Regions from separate parts of the Homo sapiens genome. Here all the other regions are linked to region 3. Evidence: fine-mapped expression QTL. A gene starts in region 3. Each other region holds a variant in brackets. All regions are shown on one strand. Distances are from middle to middle. Region 1 overlaps LOC105375920 (a long non-coding RNA gene). Region 2 overlaps TPD52-MRPS28 (TPD52-MRPS28 readthrough). Region 3 holds the start of TPD52 (tumor protein D52). Region 4 overlaps TPD52-MRPS28 (TPD52-MRPS28 readthrough).

Evidence for each region.
Region 1: its variant is fine-mapped to the expression of TPD52 in tibial artery (GTEx, PIP 0.94).
Region 2: its variant is fine-mapped to the expression of TPD52 in whole blood (INTERVAL, PIP above 0.99).
Region 4: its variant is fine-mapped to the expression of TPD52 in naive CD4 T cells (Schmiedel 2018, PIP 0.95).

The regions. Positions count from the first base shown.
Region 1 is chr8:80,204,018-80,209,256 of GRCh38, forward strand. All of the region lies in intron 2 of LOC105375920 (a long non-coding RNA gene), which reads right to left. It also overlaps the pseudogene RN7SL41P. Among named protein-coding and RNA genes, the nearest start is that of MIR5708, 35 kb to the right of the region's middle. The variant A/G (reference allele first, on the strand shown) is at 2,735.
Region 2 is chr8:80,092,622-80,097,860 of GRCh38, forward strand. The region is part of intron 1 of TPD52-MRPS28 (TPD52-MRPS28 readthrough); the gene reads right to left. The region is part of intron 1 of TPD52 (tumor protein D52); the gene reads right to left. Among named protein-coding and RNA genes, the nearest start is that of MRPS28, 65 kb to the left of the region's middle. The variant C/CT (reference allele first, on the strand shown) is at 3,080.
Region 3 is chr8:80,168,961-80,174,199 of GRCh38, forward strand. It overlaps TPD52 (tumor protein D52), which reads right to left and starts at 2,604. Exons shown (of 8, transcript NM_001025253.3): 1 at 2,465-2,604. The coding sequence starts at 2,483. TPD52-MRPS28 (TPD52-MRPS28 readthrough) reads right to left here and starts at 2,604. Exons shown (of 7, transcript NM_001387778.1): 1 at 2,465-2,604. The coding sequence starts at 2,483. RefSeq lists a silencer at 2,436-2,765.
Region 4 is chr8:80,132,729-80,137,967 of GRCh38, forward strand. All of the region lies in intron 1 of TPD52-MRPS28 (TPD52-MRPS28 readthrough), which reads right to left. The region is part of intron 1 of TPD52 (tumor protein D52); the gene reads right to left. Among named protein-coding and RNA genes, the nearest start is that of TPD52, 36 kb to the right of the region's middle. RefSeq lists an enhancer at 1,816-1,865. The variant C/T (reference allele first, on the strand shown) is at 2,315.

The DNA.
Region 1 (5,239 bases), 35 kb after region 3:
GAACAGGGAGAAGAGAACATTGTAGAGTTAGAGTTCCTGAGAAAAATGGGGTCTTCCAGTCGAGGGACACAGCCAATTCAAAGACACCTGGTGGGGAAGGAGGCAAGGTGATAAATACCCCGACTTTCGTCTCCTCTTTCTTCTTTTTTTCTTACTGAGGCTCTGCACTGGCTGAACCCAATCAGAATGACAGTGGACTTGGCAATGATCATTATGGTCCATACCATTCAGGCTCCTGGGCAGAGAGCAACACAAAGAAGGCTGGAACTGGATATGGTGGGGCAAATAGAAGCTATTTGGCATAGAGAGCAATCTTGGAGGTATCACTGAGCAAAATGAAGAAATGTAACGGTAAAACCGATTGTCACTCAGGCTCCTCCTAAAAGGTTCCTAGATGGAATGACACACTGGTAGTAGTGAACACACCTACCATCCAGATCTTGGTTTCTAAATACCATTGTCACATAAAAAGAACCAGTACTCCTTGGAAAAATGGCTTTCTCTATGGCTGTGACAGGGAAAATACAAGATGACCTGGGCGTATCTTGTTTTGCCAGAAAGTAAGGAAGAGCTCAAAGACTGAAGGGTGCCAGGTATGGTGGTGTGTGCCCATGGTTCCAACTACTCAGGAGACTAAGGCAGGAGGATGACTGAGTCCAGGAGTTCTGAGTTGTAGTGCACTATGCCAATCAGGTGACTGTGCTAAGTTTAACATCAATATGGTGACCTCTTGGAGCAGAGGACCACCAGGTTACATAAGGAGGGGTGAACTGGCTCAGACTAGAAATAGACCAGATCAAAATTTCCTTGCTGATTAGTAGTGGGATGGTATCTGTGAATAACCACTGCATTCCAGCCTGGGCAACATGGCAAGACCCTGTGTCTAAAAGGAAAACAAAAAGATTTAAGGGTACATGTCAAAAGGACATAGGAGTCAGTTTGAAGAAATTCCCACTGGCCAAATCCGGGGCAATTTTGGACAATATTTAACTATTTGTAGTAATAGTTACAGATTGAGGCTGGGTGCAGTGGCTTCCGCCTGTAATCCCAGCACTTTGGGAGGCTGAGGCAGGTGGATCACAAGGTCAGGAGTTCGAGACCAGCCTGGCCAACATAGTGAAACCCCGTCTCTACTAAAAATACAAAAAATTAGCTGGGGGTGATGGCATGTGCCTGTAATCCCAGCTACTTGGGAGGCTGAGGCAGGAGAATTGCTTGAACCCAGGAGGTGGAGGTTGCAGTGAGCCAAGATTGTGCCATTGCACTACAGCCTGGGCAACAGTGCGAGACACCATCTCAAAAAAAAAAAAAAAAAGTGTTACAGATTAAACCTCAGAGTAAAGTAAATGTATGTGAACACATAGTGATATAAATTTTAAAATGAATGAATAAATGGGGAGAATGTTCTACCTTATAGTAAAAGTATTAAGGCATATTACTACAAAGTACTAATTAACTATTAATCAGTGAACACAATGTAATCATTAATTAATTTTATAGTGAAGAAACTTGGTGAACACATTAACCAAGTGATAAATATTATCATCAGGGCTGGACATGGTGGTTTATGCCTGTAATCCTAGCACTTTTGGAGGCTTATGCCTGTAATCCTAGCACTTTTGGAGGCCAAGACAGGCAGATCGCTTGAGACCAGGAGTTTGAGGCCAGTCTGGGCAACATGGAGAAACCTCATCCCTGCAAAAAATACAAAAATTATCCAGGTGTGGTGGTGTGCACCTGTAGTCCCAGCTACTTGGGAGGCTGACATGGGAGGGTCACCTGAGCCTGGGGAGGTTGAGGCTGCAGTGAGACATGATTGTACCACTGTACTCCAGCCCGGGCAACAGAGTAAGACCCTGTCTCAAAAAAAAAAAAAAAGTTATCATCAATAATGAAGTACAAGTCCTGTGCCTCCGATGTAATGTAATGAGAAAACCACATCATTACTTCTATGGTATTCCTTGCAATAAAAAAGCATACATCCTGAAGAAACATCAGACTTACCCAAACCAGGGGATAATTAAATGGTTAGTAGCCTGTACTCTAAAAATGACAAGGTTTTTTTTTGTTTGTTTCTGTTTTTTGTTTTTTTGAGACGGCGTCTTGCTCTGTCACCCAGGCTAGAGTGCATTGGCGCTATCTCAGCTTACTGCAACCTCCGTCTCCTGGTTCAAGCGATTCTCCTGCCTCAGCCTCCCAAGTAGCACCACCATACCTGGCTAATTTTCGTATTTTTAGTAGAGATGGTGTTTTACCATGTTGGCCAGGGTGCTCTCCAACTCATGACCTCAGGTGATACGTCCACCTCGGCCTCCCAAAGTGCTGGGATTACAAGCATGAGCCACCGTGCCTGGCATAAAAATGACAGGTTAATAAGAAACAAAGAAAGTCTGAGAAACAGAACCTGACTGAAGGAAACTAAATGGATATCATAACAGTCCCTGGGACTGCTCAGGGACTGTAATGGCCCAGATTTGACACTGGTCAGGAAGCAGGTGGCATTGAACCTTCTCAGAGGCTCTGAAGGGAGGGGGAACAGTAGAAGTTTTGCACCTAGGTTCTTCTTGGCACCACTTCTAAACCAGAGCAGCCTGGGCAACATAGTAAGACCTCCATCTCTACAAAATAAAAATAAAAAAACTCTGTATTTTTTTGTAGAGATGGGGGTTTCGTCATGTTGCTTAAGCTGGTCTCAAAACTCCTGGACTCAAGTGATCCTCCTGCCTCAGCCACC[A/G]TGCCTGGCCATACATTCATCTTATTAATAATATACTCTGTGTCTCTTACATGGGTATATATTAATAAATTCTAAGAAGTATATTTCTTGGTCAAAAGGTATGAGTATTCTAAATTTTATTAGACATGGGAAACTTGCCTTCCAACATATCTCATTTTTTAATTCTTAAAGTTGAATTGGCAAATATTGACTCTAGCCATCCTAATCTGTTATCCTTTTAGGCTCCTATGGGTCCATTTTAGATATTTTTGGTTGTGTTGATTTTATTTCTTTTTGCTCCATTATATTGCTTCATTTCCCCTTTGTTTTTCCTTTATCCCTCTTTGATGACTCATCTTCATGCTATTCGGCCAGAATCTGGGTCTGGAGGAGTGTGAACCATGGAGGGTTTACATTATAAACAAGACATCGCCTCTCAGCTGCTCATGCACCTGCTCCCTTGGCCTCCTGTGAAAACAGATGTCCCAGAGCAGTTACAAGGCTCTTTCAGGAGAATTTCCTCCAAGAAGATTTTGCAACTCAAATGTGAAGCCTCTTCAGGACCATAAGTTCCATGGTAAGGACAGCATACTTCATCTGCTTGAAAACTATTGGTTATTGACATGTTATACTATCTAGTATTTATATTAAAATTTTGCTTTTCAGAAAATCCAAGGACTCCAGTTGGATTTTAGGCAAAAATGTCAATATCAGGCCACAAGACAGAGGGTGGAGATAGCATGGAGGAGGGTCTGTTCAGGGACTGTAATGGCCCGGATTTGACACTGGTCAGGAAGCAGGTGGCGTTGAACCTTCTCAGAGGCTCTGAAAGGAGGGGGAGCAGTAGAAGTTAAGCACCCAAGTTCTTCTTGGCACCACTTCTAAACCAGTTATTTCTACCCCTTTTGTGAATGATTCTCCTCCTTGACTTGCAGAATCACCGGATTCTCTTAGATGTTAGTACTTCCAGCTCTCTTTTCTTACCTTGGAGGCCTGGAAGAAGCTGGCTGCAGTGAAGGTCATCCCTTAAAGGATATTTGATGGGCCCATTGTTCTCATGCTGGGTGGTTCTTTCCATCTGACAGACTCTCCATCTAACTATTGAGAATGGTGTAGAAGGGCAGGTTTCTGGGAGGAGAGGCCCCCTCTCATTTTCTAACCATTAGCCATGGTTCCACCCTGGAAAGTTCTTGAGATATAGGGACATGGCTAAGACTGATCTGCAAAAATGTTTTACTCATCTCTTTTTTTAAAAAAAATATTACCTCCAAGGTAAGTAGAGTTTCCGAAAAAAAATTTTAAAACAAGTTTTAGAATCTATGCTTTGCTGAAAATGTCCTTGTTTTTTTTATATTTGTCTCCCCACAAAGAATTTACTGGGTTCATTAAGCACAGCTTTCTAACTGATGTGCCCAAATGGGTTGCCCTAATCTCAATATTGAATCCCTCAGCCCTCGGATAATCAAATGGAGCTGGGACCAGCCTGAGCTCCCAAGATGGCTATCTCTGGCTATGAGCAGAATCTAAATTTGCTATTTAATATGTGCCAAGATGTTTAAAAGTTTGTGAAGTTCCGCCTTTGAGAATCATCCTTCAGCACATTGTTTCTCCCTGATACATATGGAAATATGCTGTAAAGTCCTTCTAACATGTCCCAACAATGTCCTGGAAGTAGCTTGTCTTCTCAGTGCGGCTGGAACTCAGGTAAGTACCCCTGAACAGGGCTGTATCACAACAGCTGCCCCAGCAGCTCATGACTCTGCAATCACTGTGCTATTGTTGGTGCTATTAATATTTAAGCAGGAGGCTTGGTGTAGCTGCCTGCTGAAACCCAGGCAGACTCAAGCCATGTGGCTGATACTCCTGTCCTACTGTCAATGTGGCTAATGCTATTTATGCCAACTCCTCTGCAGGCCACAGTAGTCCTTCTCCATGTCACAGTCTGTTAAAGATTCTCCTCATTGAAAGGCCAGGCACGCTGGCTCACACCTGTAATCCCAGCACTTTAGGAGGCTGAGGTGGGTAGATGATTTGAAGTCAGGAGTTCGAGACCAGCCTGGCCAACATGATGAAACCCCATCTCTACTAAACATACAAAAAAATTAGCCGAGTGTGGTGGCGCATGCCTGTAATCCCAGCTACTCGGGAGGCTGAGGCAGGAGAATCACTGGAACCTGGGAGGCAGAGGCTGCACTGAACCGAGATCGCACCATTGCACTCCAGCCTGGGCAACAGAGTGAAACTCTGTCTCAAAAACAAAAAAAAAGATTCTCATCGAACTGGCTTTCAGATGCACTTGAAAAATCTTTTCCCTGCACTCAAGCTTGCCAGTCAACTGTATTTGTTCCAAGAGGCCCCACTCTAAGACCCTGCACCAACAATCTGTTTTCCCCTCTATGTGGAAGTTCAGAAGCCAGCCCACCAGCCCTGTGTCCTATCCTTTTGGTGAGTTATTCCTCCAGGATCTTATTGTACTTTCCAGCTCTTTGCTCAGCCCAGTCCAGACTTGTCTTCAAAACACTGCCC
Region 2 (5,239 bases), 76 kb before region 3:
TGGGTGGAACTAGAGGTCATTATGTTAAGTGAAATAAGCTAGGAACAGAAATACAACTGTCACACGTTCTCACTCAAGTGGAGCTAAAAACTGTAGATCTCGTGAAGAGAGAGTAAAATCACAAATTCCGTGTTATACACATTCTACCACAATTTAAAAAAAAAAAAAGATCACATAATTATAAGAGGTGAGATTGTCACTCACACTTTAAATTACTGCCAGAGGCTGGGAAGAGGAGGAGTTGAGCAGGGGTGGGGGTAGGAATAAAGGATGGAATAAAGGTGGAAGGGGGAATAAAGAATATATTTATTACCAAGGAAGTGTACATTTCAAATGGTACAGATGGTAAATTATATACATATATTTTGTCTCAATTAAAAAATATAAAAACTATAAAAAATTAAATGTTAAAAATAAAAGATTTTGTTTTTTGTTTTTCTGAGACCCTAACAGTTCACAAAGCAGGCAAGTTCAGATAGGACAAAACCGGCTGTGTCACAACAGGGTGTGCACATGCTTGGTCTTTTCAACGGGATAATTATTTCGACTCTGGAATAATAATAATAATAATAAACAGAGTCCAGAATAATGGCTCAGTAATAAGAGAATGAAAGCAGGCCATTCTTACTAAAAGTATTAACAATGTATTTGAGAGTACAGTGGTCTCTATGGTGAGATTACTGGAAGATTAAAGAGGTGTCATCCAAGCTAAATGTTTCCAATTTGCTGAATGAGTTTAAAGACAGCTCTACAGGGGTGCATAAACACAAGCGACTGTCACAACCCTAAAAGGAATAAATGAACTGGTGGACTACATTTTAATGTGGAAAAAACTTCCACAATGCTTACACAGCTATTCCTGGCAATGAGAGGCTCATATGAAACACTTTTCCTTAAGGGAATGGGAGTTTCTAGAGAACAGTAGGCACTTATTTAAAATTAATATTGGACCACAAACTTCTATCATCAGCAAGCTGAGACCTAACAAACAAGATCAAAATACCAAGTCATACATTTAGGCAGTTAAACTTGCTTTTAAACTGTAATAAGCTAATTAGATGCATTCAGTGGGTCAACCATTAAAAAAAATATACACTGCACAAATCTTGTCAATTTTTCATTAAATTTTATTAAGAAACAAGAGTCCTGTGCCAAAAGTGATAGCTTCACCATCTGAACCTGCTACTCTGGTTAAGAAATGACATTTCCAATTCCAAATTTCACATACTTTCCTTTATAAAGACAATAGCAGAAGACCAATGCTACATGTAAACTCAATAGTAGCCCATTATCTTGAAACCAAATCAGTGTGTGGAAAGCTTCAAAACTTTCTTTGCCTTTTGGCACAAGACTGAAGACATGAGATTTTTTTTAACATCTGACCATAATAACTGCTGTATTAATCACTGTGAAGGCTCCTTGTTGACTTTTCTCAGAGTTTTATAAAACATCGCTATCAAACAGGTATTTATCAAAATAGGCATATAATTTTATTTATTCCAGGAAGCTCTCTCAGTGTTAAAAGGATAAGATAATTAACGTTTAGATGGAAAGAGAGCATGGGATGGAAAAATGCTCTCCTGAAACACAGCCAGATCTATGAAACCATACAATTACTGTCATGTCATCTCTGAAAGATCAAGTTAACAATGTGTATGATTTAATAATCTTACTTAATATGGCCAGGAATGCTAACAAATCGCCAAGCCAATTTGTTCTTATTCTTACGCAGGTAGCTAGACTACACCTCCCAGGCTCCTTTGCAGTTAGATGTGGCCATGTGACTAAGTTCTAGACAAAAGAAAATTTTATATATATATATATATATATATATATATATATATATATATATATATATATATATGTATGTATATATAACATGAGGGAGACATAAAGATTGTTGCCAATAGCCACTGAGATTTTGGGAGTTACTGATGGAAACATATTGCCAAATATAGCTTCAGATGTATTTCTTCAAATTCCTCTTTTAAAATGATCATATCCCCAGGTAAGAGTTTTGGAAACAGATAGTGGTGATGGTTACACAATGATGTGAATATGATGAATACAACTGAACTGTATACTTAAAAATGGTTAAAATCACAAATTATATCTTATATACACATATTCTACCATAATTTAAAAAAAAAATGATCACTTAATTATAAGAGTTGAAATAAGTTGGAACCATGATTAAGAAGTATTTTAAATACTCTTTCCTGAAAATATAAGCAAGACCTTTGTGTCCAGACTTGTTCAGAAAATGCTCTAAGTGAAGAAGAGGAAGCCCTGGGAGAGGCAGGCCTGGTTAGGTTGTCACAATAAGGAGGGTAATTGTCAGCAGGAGGAGAGATGCTGGGACCAAGAATATATCACAGATCCTTCAATTGCACTCCCAGGTATTTACCCAAATGAGCTGAAAACTTATGACCACACAAAACCCTGTAGTGAATGGTCATAGTGGCTTTATTCATGATCACCAAAAACAAGAAACCACCAAGATGTCATTCAGTAGGTGAATGGATAATAAACTGTGGTACATCCAGACAGTGGAATATTATTCAGCACTAAAAAGAAATGAACTAGCAAGCTGTGAAAAAACACAAAGAAACTTTAAATGCATATTATTGACAAAAGCCAATCTGAAAAGCCAAAATACTGTAAGATCTCAACTATGTGACATTCTGGAAAAGACAAAATTATGGAGACAGTAAAAAGATCAATGGTTACCAAGGGCTGAGGGGGAGGCAAGCAGGAATGACTAGGTTGGGGTGCTGGTGATTTTTAGGGCAGTGAAAGTATTCTGTATGATACTGCAATGGTGGCTACATATTATGCATCTGTCAAAATCCATTGAACTGGACAACACTAATAAAAACTACAGACTTTAGTTAATAATAATGTCTCAGCATTAACCAAATGTAACAAATGTACCATATGAATTTAAGGTGTTAATAATAAGGGAAACTAGGGGCGTGAAGGAACTCTGCACTACTTGTTCAATTTTCTGTAAACCCAAAACTGCCCTAAAATACAAAGACTAGGCCGGGTGCGGTGGCTCATGCCTGTAATCCAAGCA[C/CT]TTGGGAGGCCAAGGTGGGAGGATCATGAGGTCAAAAGATCGAGACCATCCTGGCCAACATGGTGAAACTCCGTCTGTCTCCACTAAAAATACAAAAATTAGCTGAGTGTAGCGGCATGCGCCCGTGGTCCCAGCTACTCAGGAGGCTGAGGCAGGAGAATCGCTTGAACCCAGGAGGCGGAGGTTTCAGTGAGCTGAGATCGCGACACTGCACTCCAGCCTGGCAACAGAGTGAGACTCCATCTCTACATACATACATACATACATACTATCGGCCAGGCACAGTGGCTCACGCCTCCAAGCCCAACACTTTGGGAGGCCAAAGCAGGCATATTGCTTGAGCTCAGGAATTTGAGGCCAGCCTGGGTAACATGACAAAAACCCGTCTCTATGAAAAATACAAAAATTAGTTGGGCATGGTGGTGTGCACCTGCAGTCCCACCTGCTGAAGAGGTTGAAGTGGGAGGATTGTTTAAGCCCAGGTGGTCAAGGCTGCAGTGAGCCATGATTGTGCCAATGTACTCCAGCCTGAGTGACAAGAGCAAGAACTTGTCTCAAAATAAATAAAGACTATCAAACACACACACACAAACACACACACACACACACACACACACAAACTTCTCCTAGTCTGCCTGGGGTAAAATACTCAAGCACCAAAACTCATCTGCTTGGACTATGGTCAAGGCTTCCTAAGTATCTGAAGTAGCACCAAAGAAAGCATGTTTACATGTACAGGCATACTCCTGTTTTACTGCACTCCACTTCATTGCACTTCACAGTATGTTTTTTACAAACTGAAGGTTTATGGCAACACTGTGTCCAGAAAGTCTATCTATTAGTGCCATTATTCCAGCAGCACATGCTCACTTTGTGTCTCTGCATCACATTTTGCTAATTCTCTCATTATTTCAAACTTTTTCATTATTATTATATCTGTTATGGTCATCTGTGATCAGTGACCTTTGATGTTACTATTGTAATTGTTTTGGGATGCCACAAACGACACCCATACAGGATGGCAAACTCAATCGATAAATGTTTGTGCTCTGACTGTTCCACAAACTGGCCATTCTCTCATCTCTCTCCCTCTCCTCAGGCCTCCCTATTTGATGAGACACAACAATATGGAAATTAGGCCAATTAATGTCCCTACGATGGCCTCTAGGTGTTCAAATGACAGGAAGAGTAGCACATCTTTCACTTTAAATCAAAAGCTAGAAATGATTAAGCTTAGCGAGAAAGGCATGTCAATAGTCTCTGTAGGCCAAAAACCAGACCGCCTGCACCTGCCAGGTTTTGAATGCAAAGAAAAAGTTCTTGAAGCTTCGAAATTACAAGTGCTACTCCAGTGAACACATGAATGATAAGAGGGCAAAAACAGCCTTATTGCTGATATGGACAAAGTTTGAATGCTCTGGATAGAAGTTCAAACCAGCTCAACACTCCCTCAAGCCAAAGCCTAATCCAGGGCAAGGTCCTACCTCTCTTCAATTCTATGAAGGCTAAGAAAGGTGAGGAAGCTGCAGAAGAAGTCTGAAGCTAGCAGAGGTTGGTTCATGAGGATTAAGGAAAGAAGCCATCTCCATAACATAAATGTATAAGGTGAAGCAGCAAGTGCTGATAGGGAAGCTGCAGCAAACTATCCAAAAGATCTAGCTAAGATAATTTATGAAGGTAGCTGATATGGTTTAGATCTGTGTTCCCATCCAAATCTCATGTCAAATTGTAATCCCCAGTGTTGGAGGAGGGGCCTGCTGGGAGGTGATTAGATCATAGGGGCAGATTTCTCCCTTGCTGTTCTCACAATAGTGAGTTCTCAAGAGATCTGATTGTTTAAAAGTGTGTAACACCTCCCCACTTTGCTCTCTTCCTCCTGTTCCACCCATCTAAGACGTCCCTGCTTCCCCTTTGCCTTCCACCATGATTCTAAGTTTCCTGAGGCCTCCCCAGCCATACTTCCTGTACGGTCTGTGAAACTGTGAGCCAATTAAACCTTTTCTTTATAAATTACCCAGTCTCAGGTAGCTCTTTACAGCAATGCAAGAACAAACTAAAACGGTAGCTACACTAAACAACAGATTGTCTATGTAAATGAAACAGCCTTTTATTGGAAGAAAATGCCCTCTAGAACTTGCAAAGTTAGAGAGGAGAAGTCAA
Region 3 (5,239 bases):
AGGAATGGCCAGGTGGTTTTGTTTTGTGTTTGTTTGTTTTTTGAGATAGAGTCTCGCTCTGTCGCCCAGGCTGGAGTGCAGTGGTTTGATCTAAGCTCACTGCAACCTCTGCCTCCCAGTTTCTAGTGATTCTCCTGCCTCAGCCTCCTGAATAGCTGGGACTACAGGCCGGTGCCACCGCGCCGAGCTAATTTTTGTATTTTTAGTAGAGACAGGGTTCCACCTTGTTGGACAGGGGTCAAACTCCTGGCCTCAAGTGATCTGCCTGCCTCAGCTTCCCAAAGTGCTGGGATTACAGGTGTGAGCCACCGCACCCAGCCTTGGCCACGTTGTTCTAACACAGCAAAGCTTTGGAGTAAATGAACTGACCCTCCCAAGGCAGTGCCTCTTCTTTCATTCGGAGCAGAGTCCTCCACCTCACCCAAAGAACATATGGGAAAATTATAGACACGAAAAGACTCATCTTACAAGATAAAGATTTGAAAAAAATATGTCTTAGAATTAGACACTTAAACTAGTCCTATAAAAACTACACAAGAAGTTGGAATACTGCAGTGCTACCAATGACTGTTGATTCTTACCACCCAAGCTAGAACACAAACACTACTAAAACTAGTTACTCCACTCACGTAAGTAAAACACAGCCGTTTAATTTACTTTGACAAGTACCAAACATAGTTATTCTAAAAACATCATTATGTCAAACGACAGTGTGTAACAGATTAGTATACAAATACACATGGGCACGTTTGTCGTCATGTCTCCCCCGTCCTGCGTCGCCCCCATTGAAAGCCAGACAGACATAATGCTGACTTACATGGTGGCCCCTAAGCCGGCTAACAATATATACAAGACATGTGACAAGCTTTCTAACTCAAACATTTGCATGTCTACTATGTACAAGTCATCATGTTATCCCACTCAGGACAACCAAAGATGAAATGTTTCTAACCTCAAGAAGCTTAAAATTTAGATAATAATATGTATGTGTATATATACGTTATACAGGTAATGTATAATATATATATACACATAGGTAACACATATAAAGCATATTGTATGTAATGTTTGTAAGCACTTGTGTTAAGTCTGAAATTAATCTGAAGGGGAGCGAGGAAAGAGCTGAAAGACTCCAAAGAGTCTATCTTACAAGTAAATGAAAGTAAAGTACAGGCCTGGCCCAGTGGCTCACACCTGTAATCCCAGCACTTTGGGAGGCTGAGGCGGGTGGATCACCTGAGGTCAGGACTTGGAGACCAGCCTGGTCAACATGGAGAAACCTCTGTCTCTACTAAAAATACAAAATTAGCCGGGCTGTGGTGGCGCACACCTGTAATCCCAGCTACTTGGGAGGCTGAGGCAGGAGAATCACTTGAACCAGGGAGGCAGAGGTTGCAGTGAGCTGAGATCCCGCCACTGCACTCCAGCCTGGGCTACAGGTGGAGACTCAAAAAAACAAACAAAAAAAACACCAGAGTCTGAAAAAAATAAAGTACAAGATAGTATATTTGGAATATGGTTTGATTTACATAAAAATGCACACATGACGGCACATACTGGAGGAAAATAAGCAATACATGAAAACTTGTGTCAGGGCTCAAAACAGGAGTGATTCCTATCCTCACTTCCCAAGATTACCTACCTTGTTTTCTTTTTTCAGCATTTATGTATCTTTTTAAAAGCGTGCCACACACATCTGCGTACAGTCACAGGCTTATGATCAGCAGAGATCTCTAGGATGAAACTATTTAAATCTGAAAACCATGGCCTACTATTGCTCTATTTGGGGGTAATTTCACTTGAGCTGTTTTCAGAAGCAAGTGCACCCAACGCTATGGTAAATTAGACTGAAGGTTTTGTGTTGTGGGATTTCACCCTTCCTACGAAAAGCTCTCTTCCCTCAAACCCACAGACACCACTCCACAATCTGGGGGTTTCTAGTATGATAAATATCTGCCTCCCAAACCCCCCATGGGTCATACGCCACCAAAAATCCTAACCACCTGAACTTAGAAGAAGGCAGAAAGTCTTAATTTATGAGGGAGAGAGGGGTTTCCCACCTGGAGGGACGAGAGCGACTCACTGTCCTCTGTTCCTGGTTCCAGTCACTTACAGGAGCTGGCTGCGCCGTGCTCCCTTCACGCGGCTTTCCACCCAAAGCGCATCACGGCCGCCAGCCCCTGACGCTAGCCCCTTCGCCACCTCCCAGAACCTTCTCTCCCTCTCCCCCACACACGCACACTCACACTCACACATGCAGTCCCATCTGCCCCCGCCAGAGCCGCTCCTTCCAGGGCCCCAGGATGCCAGATCCGGATCCGGGAGATGCAACTTGCGGCGCCGGCCCAGGAGGCTCGGCACCTGCTCGAGCCGCCGGGCCGCGCTCAGCCCCGCGCCGAGCCAAAGCCCGAGTCCAAGCCCGAGTCCAAGCCCGAGCCCAAGCCCGCTGGGTCCGCGCCCTCACCTTGCTCGCCGCGGTCCATGTCTCCAGCCCGCCGCCTCGTGTCCTCTGCAGCACCCCCGCCTGCAGCCCGTCCCGGCTCGGATCGCCCGCCGCGCCGCGCAGAGCTCCTCCTCGCCTCCGCCGGCGACTCCCGCGAAGTCCCCACCCCCAGAGGCGTCGGGCGCGGCGGCGCCGCCCGCCCTCGGCCTGGAGCGCTTTCCTGGGGCGTCACCCAACCACCTGACCCGGTCGACCTGTGCGCTCCGCCACGTCGGCGCGGGCGGCGCAGCGCTAGGAGGGCCGGGCGCACCCCGACTCCCGCACCGGCTGGAAGTCGGCCGGGAGGAGGGAAGAGGACGGCGAGGAGATGGACTCGGCCATGGAGGCTGCGTGGAGCCTGCTTGGGAACCGGGATGGCGTTTGCCTTCCACCATCAAGTTATTTATAAAATCAAAAGTTTCCTCCGAGGCCTTGGAGATGCCCTTTCTCTGCATCTGCGAACACCTACTTTCCTATACTTACAGTAGGAAACACAGGAACGTTATTTAGAAATGCCAGTGGCTCTTTTCTCTCTGTATTTTATTACCTAAATAATGCCCTATGATGTCTTCTCTAACTAGGTCATAAACCAGCATAGGTGAAAATTGCAAAGAATCTCTTGAAAAATTATATAGTCTTTTCCATAGAATGCGGATTTTTTAGGTGACTAGGAAGATTTTCATATAATAAAAATCTGTTTTGAGTGCGGGACTGAGGACAACACTAAAATGAATTAAATCAAATGAAATTAATTAAATTAACCGAAGGTCAGAATTATCAGCAGAGATCTTTGGAAAATGCGTGTTGAGGCGTCATGTCCGTTGATCAAAGGACAGTTTGAGGTTCCCGTAACAATCCAGTTCTTTTCATTAGTAGCGTTAACAATCTGTTTTCACAGGGTTTTGCAGTTACTCGTCTTCCATGAAGTCACTTTGATTGTATGGGTCATGGTCTTCAGGTGGTGTCTCAATTTCGTAAGCTATCTGAGGCTGCAAATGAAGTGGGGCTTCTTTTCTGTGTTGCTTGACGTTTAGGCCGAAGCATTGTGTAGCACTCCACAGACAACAAAGAAGCACTTATTCAGATGTTTTAAAATTACTTGTAGTTACCTGAAGTGACTGTATGCTATTAATATCTCTATACTGTCGTGCTGTATGTAAAGTGTAGCTCTCTCCAGCCTGCATCTTCCAGTGTCTTCTGGGGACGTTTACTGTTTGACTCAACCAGATGTGATCTCTTCTATTTGAGTCCTTCTACTCTGACTGCACTTGGCTCCTCTCCTGTGGCACTCACCCCAGCACTGGTGCCAGGATGCTACCAGTGTATGTTTCACAGTCCTATTAGGTTACAAGCTCCAGGTGGTAAAGTCCTTAAAATGGCCTATTAAAAAAATCAAAAAACAGGCCTGGCACGGTGGCTCACGCCTGTAATCCCAGCACTCCGGGAGGCCAAGGCGGGTGGATCACTTGAGGTCAGGAGTTTGAGACCAGCCTGGCCAACATGGTGAAACCTTGTGTCTACTAAAAATACAAAAATTGTCGGGCGCGGTGGCTCACGCCTGTAATCCCAGCACTTTGGGAGGCCGAGGCGGGCGGATCACGAGGTCAGGAGATCGAGACCATCCTGGCTAACACGGTGAAACCCCATCTCTACTAAAAATACCAAAAATTAGCCAGGTGTGGTGGCGGGCGCCTGTAGTCCCAGCTACTCGGCAGGCTGAGGCAGGAGAATGGCATGAACCCGGGAGGCAGAGGTTGCAGTGAACTGAGATCACGCCACTGCACTCCAGCATGGGCAACAGAGTGAGACTCCATCTCAAAAAAAAAAAAAAAAGTTCCAGGTGGGCAAAGATTATTTTGGTCATCTCTGCATCCTTTAATTCTACCATGCAATTAATAAATATTGTAATTTTAAACCAGGCATGGTGGTGTTTGCCTGTAAACCCAGCTACTCAGGAGGCTAAGGCAAGAGGATTGCTTGAGCCCAAAAAGGTGCAATATTTTTTAAAAAATTTTTAATGTAACATAAAGGTAAATTTTGGCATCAGCAGAAAATTCTGTATGTGGTAAAGAATTTTTGACTAGCTGATGCTGAGATCTATTGTATAGAAATAAACATCTGGAGAGACAATCTCTCAATGTACTAATTTGTGGACAAATAAATAGCACTTGAACGTGAGTGTCCGTTACAAATATTTATTGTTTGTATCTGTTTAACTTACTATATAGTGATGAACTTGTTATGTATGCTGAAAGGAAAAAAAGTCTTATCTTTTGAAGAGCTTATAGAGTAGTTCACATGCAGCAGAGATGGCAAATAGCCTACCTGATAAACAGCCTTCCTGTTTTCCTTCCTAAGATAACCTAAATATTGTTTGGAGTGGCAATGTGCCCAGCTGAAACACTGGGCACTTCAAACTGCCTTGCAGCTGGAGGTGGGTCTCTCTCATTAATGTCCAATGAGATGTGAGCAAACTGTACTAATTGGAATCTCCAAGAAAGCATTTAAAAAGAAGACAGACTTGGCAGCATTACTTGGCCCTTCACCCTTCCCATTCCTGCTTAGAGGGGCAATAGCCATTTTGCAAACACGAGGAAGAAATTCACAAGCCAAGGACGGCAGAAAGAACCCAAGAATCCATGGCATCAGAGACCTGCTTCTTACTGGAAAAAAATAAATGCCTGACTTTGTAAGGCCACTGTAGTTGGCTTTCTGTTAGATGGAGCCAAATGCAATCCCAACTGATAGAATGCGCCA
Region 4 (5,239 bases), 36 kb before region 3:
TGATGGCGCCAGAAGATTTGGAAGCCCAGGATCTAAAAGCAGACGTCCTTTTGTTGTTCTGTGCCACCCACTATTGATTCAGAGAAAGAAACATGGGTCTCCTGCCTGACACTGTACCACATGAGGACGTTCTTCCAATGGCTGGAAGAAAGGAAGGGGCAAAAGGTTACCTGGAGTTTAGTTACCCTCAGTAATTAATTACTAAGGGGTCCCCATGCCACTTTTGAGTCCATACTTGCTAGTTCTCTATCAGTTCAGCCAGCCATAATGCTTCTGATGCTGATGTAAAAGGAAAATCTGTTCACTGATGAAAACTGAGTGTAGAGTTCAAATCCTGGCTCCAACACCTCTTAGCTGCATAACCTTGGATAGCTTACCTGGTCACTCCGGTCCTTTTTTCCTGCATTTGTAAAACCAGGTATGCACATATAACTCATATAGTTGCTATTAAGAATAAATATGACATTCAAAAGCACCAGTCTAATAATGTGTGTTCCCTTTACCTTTACTCAATAATTATCGGCCCCTCTTCCTGGACCACTTCAGACATTTTCTTAGGATACCACTTAGGCAAACGGTGACAGCCTGTGATTGACCCTCTGAGAGGTTCCAGGAATAGCAGCAAGGACTGCTACCACCACCCATGGGCCATATTCCATGTTTAGCTGTCTGGTGGATGCCAACCCCCCTCAAATTCAGAATCAAAACTGAATTTTCCTTCTTCCCTCCAAAACCAGATATTCTTTCCTCTTTGTGTTCCTCCTGGTCTCTTATTAACACTACCACCACTTTCTCCAGTTGCCCAGGCTTAAAACCAATTACAAACATTTTATTTCTTTGACCCACCCACTCACTGAGCCAGAGAAACATGAATCCTTCCCTCAGTTTCCTTTGGCTCCATTTCTTCTTTCCATTCCTCCCACCACTGGACCTTAGGTCTAGACCACACCTGCTCCTCAATTCCAAATGGAGCCCTACAGAAACTATCTCGATTTCATCAAGTTCAAGAGTCCAGGAACTTGATGGTACCGCTGATGCTAAAAAAAAAAAAAAACAGAAAAGAAAAGAAAAAAATTGTTGGCACATTTGAGGGAAGCTGGGCAAGGAGGGGGAGGATATTCAAAACACCCCAAGGAAGAATAACAGGGTCACTTTTTCTTTAAAGGATGAAGTTTATATTGTAGCAAGTCAGAATAAGAAGAAGATACAGAGGACTAGAAGTCACGGTTGAAATTCAGATCAGAAATGTCATCCAAATATAGAAAATAACAAATAATAAAAACCATTTTTCCATATACAGTATTCTGTAGAGTCAGTGACATGGCAGACACGGTGATTCTAATCCACGGCCACAGCTTAGGAGCAGTAGTTATTTCATTTATCAATTAATTTTCTTTAGTGCCTGGCATATCTATTTCAAAACCATTAAGTAATTGTAGCTGTTAACTGAATGCTTACTATGTGCCGGGTACTGTGCTGCATTATCTACATATTCTCTGCCTTGGTCCTTACCCAACCCTATGAGGGGCACTGCAATCATTCAAAGATCAGAACTGATAGTATAGAGATGGGGGAGAGACATGTCCCTGGGCTCACCTTTACAAGAGGAAAATGGTTTGCCCCAATAAGAAAACATTCATATAGTACCTAAAGTTTCCAATGTCTTAATGCTCATCATCTCATTTGAGTCACACAATAATTCTCTGAACTAGGCATGACATTAATTATTATCTCTGACTTACAATTAAGAAAAGCTCCAAGTCATGCAGGCCACTGTCTTCTTGCCTTCAAACATCTCTGCATGTTTCTTTCTAGAGCTGGTGGAAAAAGGACCATATCTGTGCCCACTTGTGAAGGGAGTAAAGGAGTATCCTTGGCATTACTAATGTCTCCTTTCTGATCCGAGAGAGAGTGTGTCATGAAGACACTCAGGCAGCTCCAAGTGGAGGTCCACACAGTAGGAACTGAGGCCTCCTGCCAGCAACTAGGTGCAGGAGCCGTGTTGAAAGTGGATCCGTTAGTCCATTCAGCCTCCAAATGACGACAGCCCCAACTGTCAACTTGACCACAGTCTCACGAGAGGCCCTGAGCCACACCATCCAGATGAGCTGCTCCAAGACTCCTGACTTGTTCCTGACATAATAAATATTTGTTGCCTTAAGCCCCTTAATGATGAGGTAATTTGTTACACAGCGATAGATAACTAATGCCAATCCAAACCCTGAGATATATGAAGCCTGAGGGTTTCAACATGAAGAAGCTGACAAGAACTGGGATCCCAAGAGAGTTCATGAATTCCCTTCCAGGAGACGTA[C/T]GCAAGTGCAGATGCTGAACTGCCAGGCAGAGGTATTACAGAAGGGATGCACACACAGGATGGAAACTTGCATAGATATCCCTTCAGGTTACTTCCAACCACAAGACCCAGTGAATTTAATTGTAAACGTCTCCCTAGTCTAGATGTACACACGGTTGTTGCCAGAATTGAATAGCTAACAAGCTGACTAAAATCTATCCAAAGCCTCCTTATTTAGAACATTTGAAATAATTTATTATTTTTGATAGAGAAAAGTGGTCACACAGGGAGTTTCATTTTCACCTCCCACTTCCCAAGACAACTGGCTCACTTCCCCAGCCAACCTCAACAAAGTTTTATCTCGGTGAACTACCTGAGTCTTCTCACCCTACCTGCCCCAGCCTACCTGCCCCCCAGGAGAGTTAGAGCTCTGACAAAGAGGAAGCCTGAATATACCCTTACTCTTAAGGCACTGGTTTTCCAACATTTCTGATAATTACTACTTAACAAGCACACTGTAAACTAGTTCAACCATTGTGGAAATCAGTGTGGCGATTCCTCAGGGATCTAGAACTGGAAATACCATTTGACCCAGCCATCCCATTACTGGGTATATACCCAAAGGACTATAAATCATGCTGCTATAAAGACACATGCACACGTATGTTTATTGCGGCATTATTCACAATAGTAAAGACTTGGAACCAACCCAAATGTCCAACAATGATAGACTGGATTAAGAAAATGTGGCACATATACACCATGGAATACTATGCAGCCATAAAAAATGATGAGTTCATGTCCTTTGTAGGGACATGGATGAAATTGGAAATCATCATTCTCAGTAAACTATCACAAGAACAAAAAACCAAACACCGCATATTCTCACTCATAGGTGGGAAGTGAACAATGAGATCACATGGACACAGGAAGGGGAATATCACACTCTGGGGACTGTTGTGGGGTGGGGGGAGGGGGGAGGGATAGCATTGGGAGATATACCTAATGCTAGATGACGAGTTAGTGGGTGCAGCGCACCAGCATGGCACATGTATACATATGTAACTAACCTGCACAATGTGCACATGTACCCTAAAACTTAAAGTATAATAAAAAATAAATTAATTAATTAAAAAAAAAAATTTCAGTCTTTGAGGTTAAAAAAAAAACAAGCACACTCACACACACATTTAAACAAAAGTTGACATTTAAGAAAACAATGGCCGGGCGCGGTGGCTCACGCCTGTAATCCCAGCACTTTGGGAAGCCGAGACGGGTGGATCATAAGGTCAGGAAATCGAGACCATCCTGGCTAACACGGTGAAACCCCATCTCTACTAAAAATACAAAAAATTAGCCGGGCGTGGTGGTGGGCACCTGTAGTCCCAGCTACTCAGGAGGCTGAGGCAGGAGAATGGCAGGAACCCGGGAAGCAGAGCTTGCAGTGAGCTGAGATCACGCCACTGCACTCCAGCCTGGGCGACAGAGCGAGACTCTGTCTCAAAAAAAAAAAAAAAAAAAAAAAAAAAAGAAAACAGTGCTCACCATTAGAACATGAAGGACATTTTGGTCTCATACTGTTCTACTACTTTGTTCTTCTTAAAAAAACACTTGGTCAAAATCCACAACCCAGTAAAAGGTCCCAAGAAACAGTATGGAGAATATATCCGAAGACATACTTCTGAACACTCAACAGCTCCTAAAATCCTCCTAGGTAGAGACAAAGGCAAAAAACTGAAATAATAAATCCCCCTTCACCCCAATCATGTGTAAATACTTAGTTCCACTTCACCCACATCCATAAAATACACAATAAATGCTGGGGCTTTCATCTAATCAAGAACAACCTCAGGCAGTTTCTATTCAAATATAAATAATTATCCAGGCCCCAAAATTCTTCTCCTAGTTCCACAGGTAATGACTGGAAAATCTACAAACAACTTCAGCTAAAACTCCCTTATCACTCTTAACAAGTATGGCTCAAAGACAAAATTTCAATCTTTTCCAATTTTTTTTAAAGTAGGCAGGCAGCAAAATAAAACATCAGCAAAAGCTAAATGTGCTTGGATAAAGCACAATTAAATACATGTTTGTATTTTTCCAAAATGGACCACAGGTTGCTATTAAAAAGAGTAATAAAATCAATCTATAGAAACTAAATAGATAAGTGTTTGCCTGCGGGCACGGGATGTGGAGTGGCTGTAAATAGACACAGGGTGATGAAAATATTCTAAAATTAGATTGTGGTGATCACTGCACAACTCTGTAAGTTTACTAGAAATCACTGAATTGTACATTTAAAACAAGTGAATTTTAAGGTAAACTATATGGTGATTATTTATGGCAAATTATATATCAATAAAGCTTTTTTCTTAAAAAATGGAAACTATATGTTAGATTTTTTTTTTAATATCCAAGATACGTGTCAGTTAAAACAAGCAAAGTACAGAATAATGTGTATGACATGTTCCCATTTGAACTTTTAAAGTGATTGTATACATTACCTGCCTAGACATTTCTGGAAGGACACCCAGAGGCTGATCATAACAGCCGCTCTGGGAGAAATGGGTCTAGGCTAAGAGAGTTTGAGTTTTAATTGCATACTGTTTGGATTCATTTGCTTTGAACATGTATTATTTTTCATAAGTATGAAAATAAGATGGGTGGAAGCCCTCAGGAGTAGGACTCTTACAGCAGTACCAAGTTTATAACGGTGCTAGTTCATATTGTTCTTTGAGAAGGGGATAGTTTGGTCCTTCAGAATTTAAATATTTCAGCAAGGTAGGGTGGCCTGTAATTCCAGCACTTTGGGAGGCCAAGGCGGGAGGATCACTTGAGCCCACGAGTTCAATGCTGCAGTGAGTCATGATTGTGCTACTGCACTCCAGCCTGAGCGACAGAATGAGACCCCGTCTCTTTTCTTTTTTTTTTCTTTTTTTTGAGACA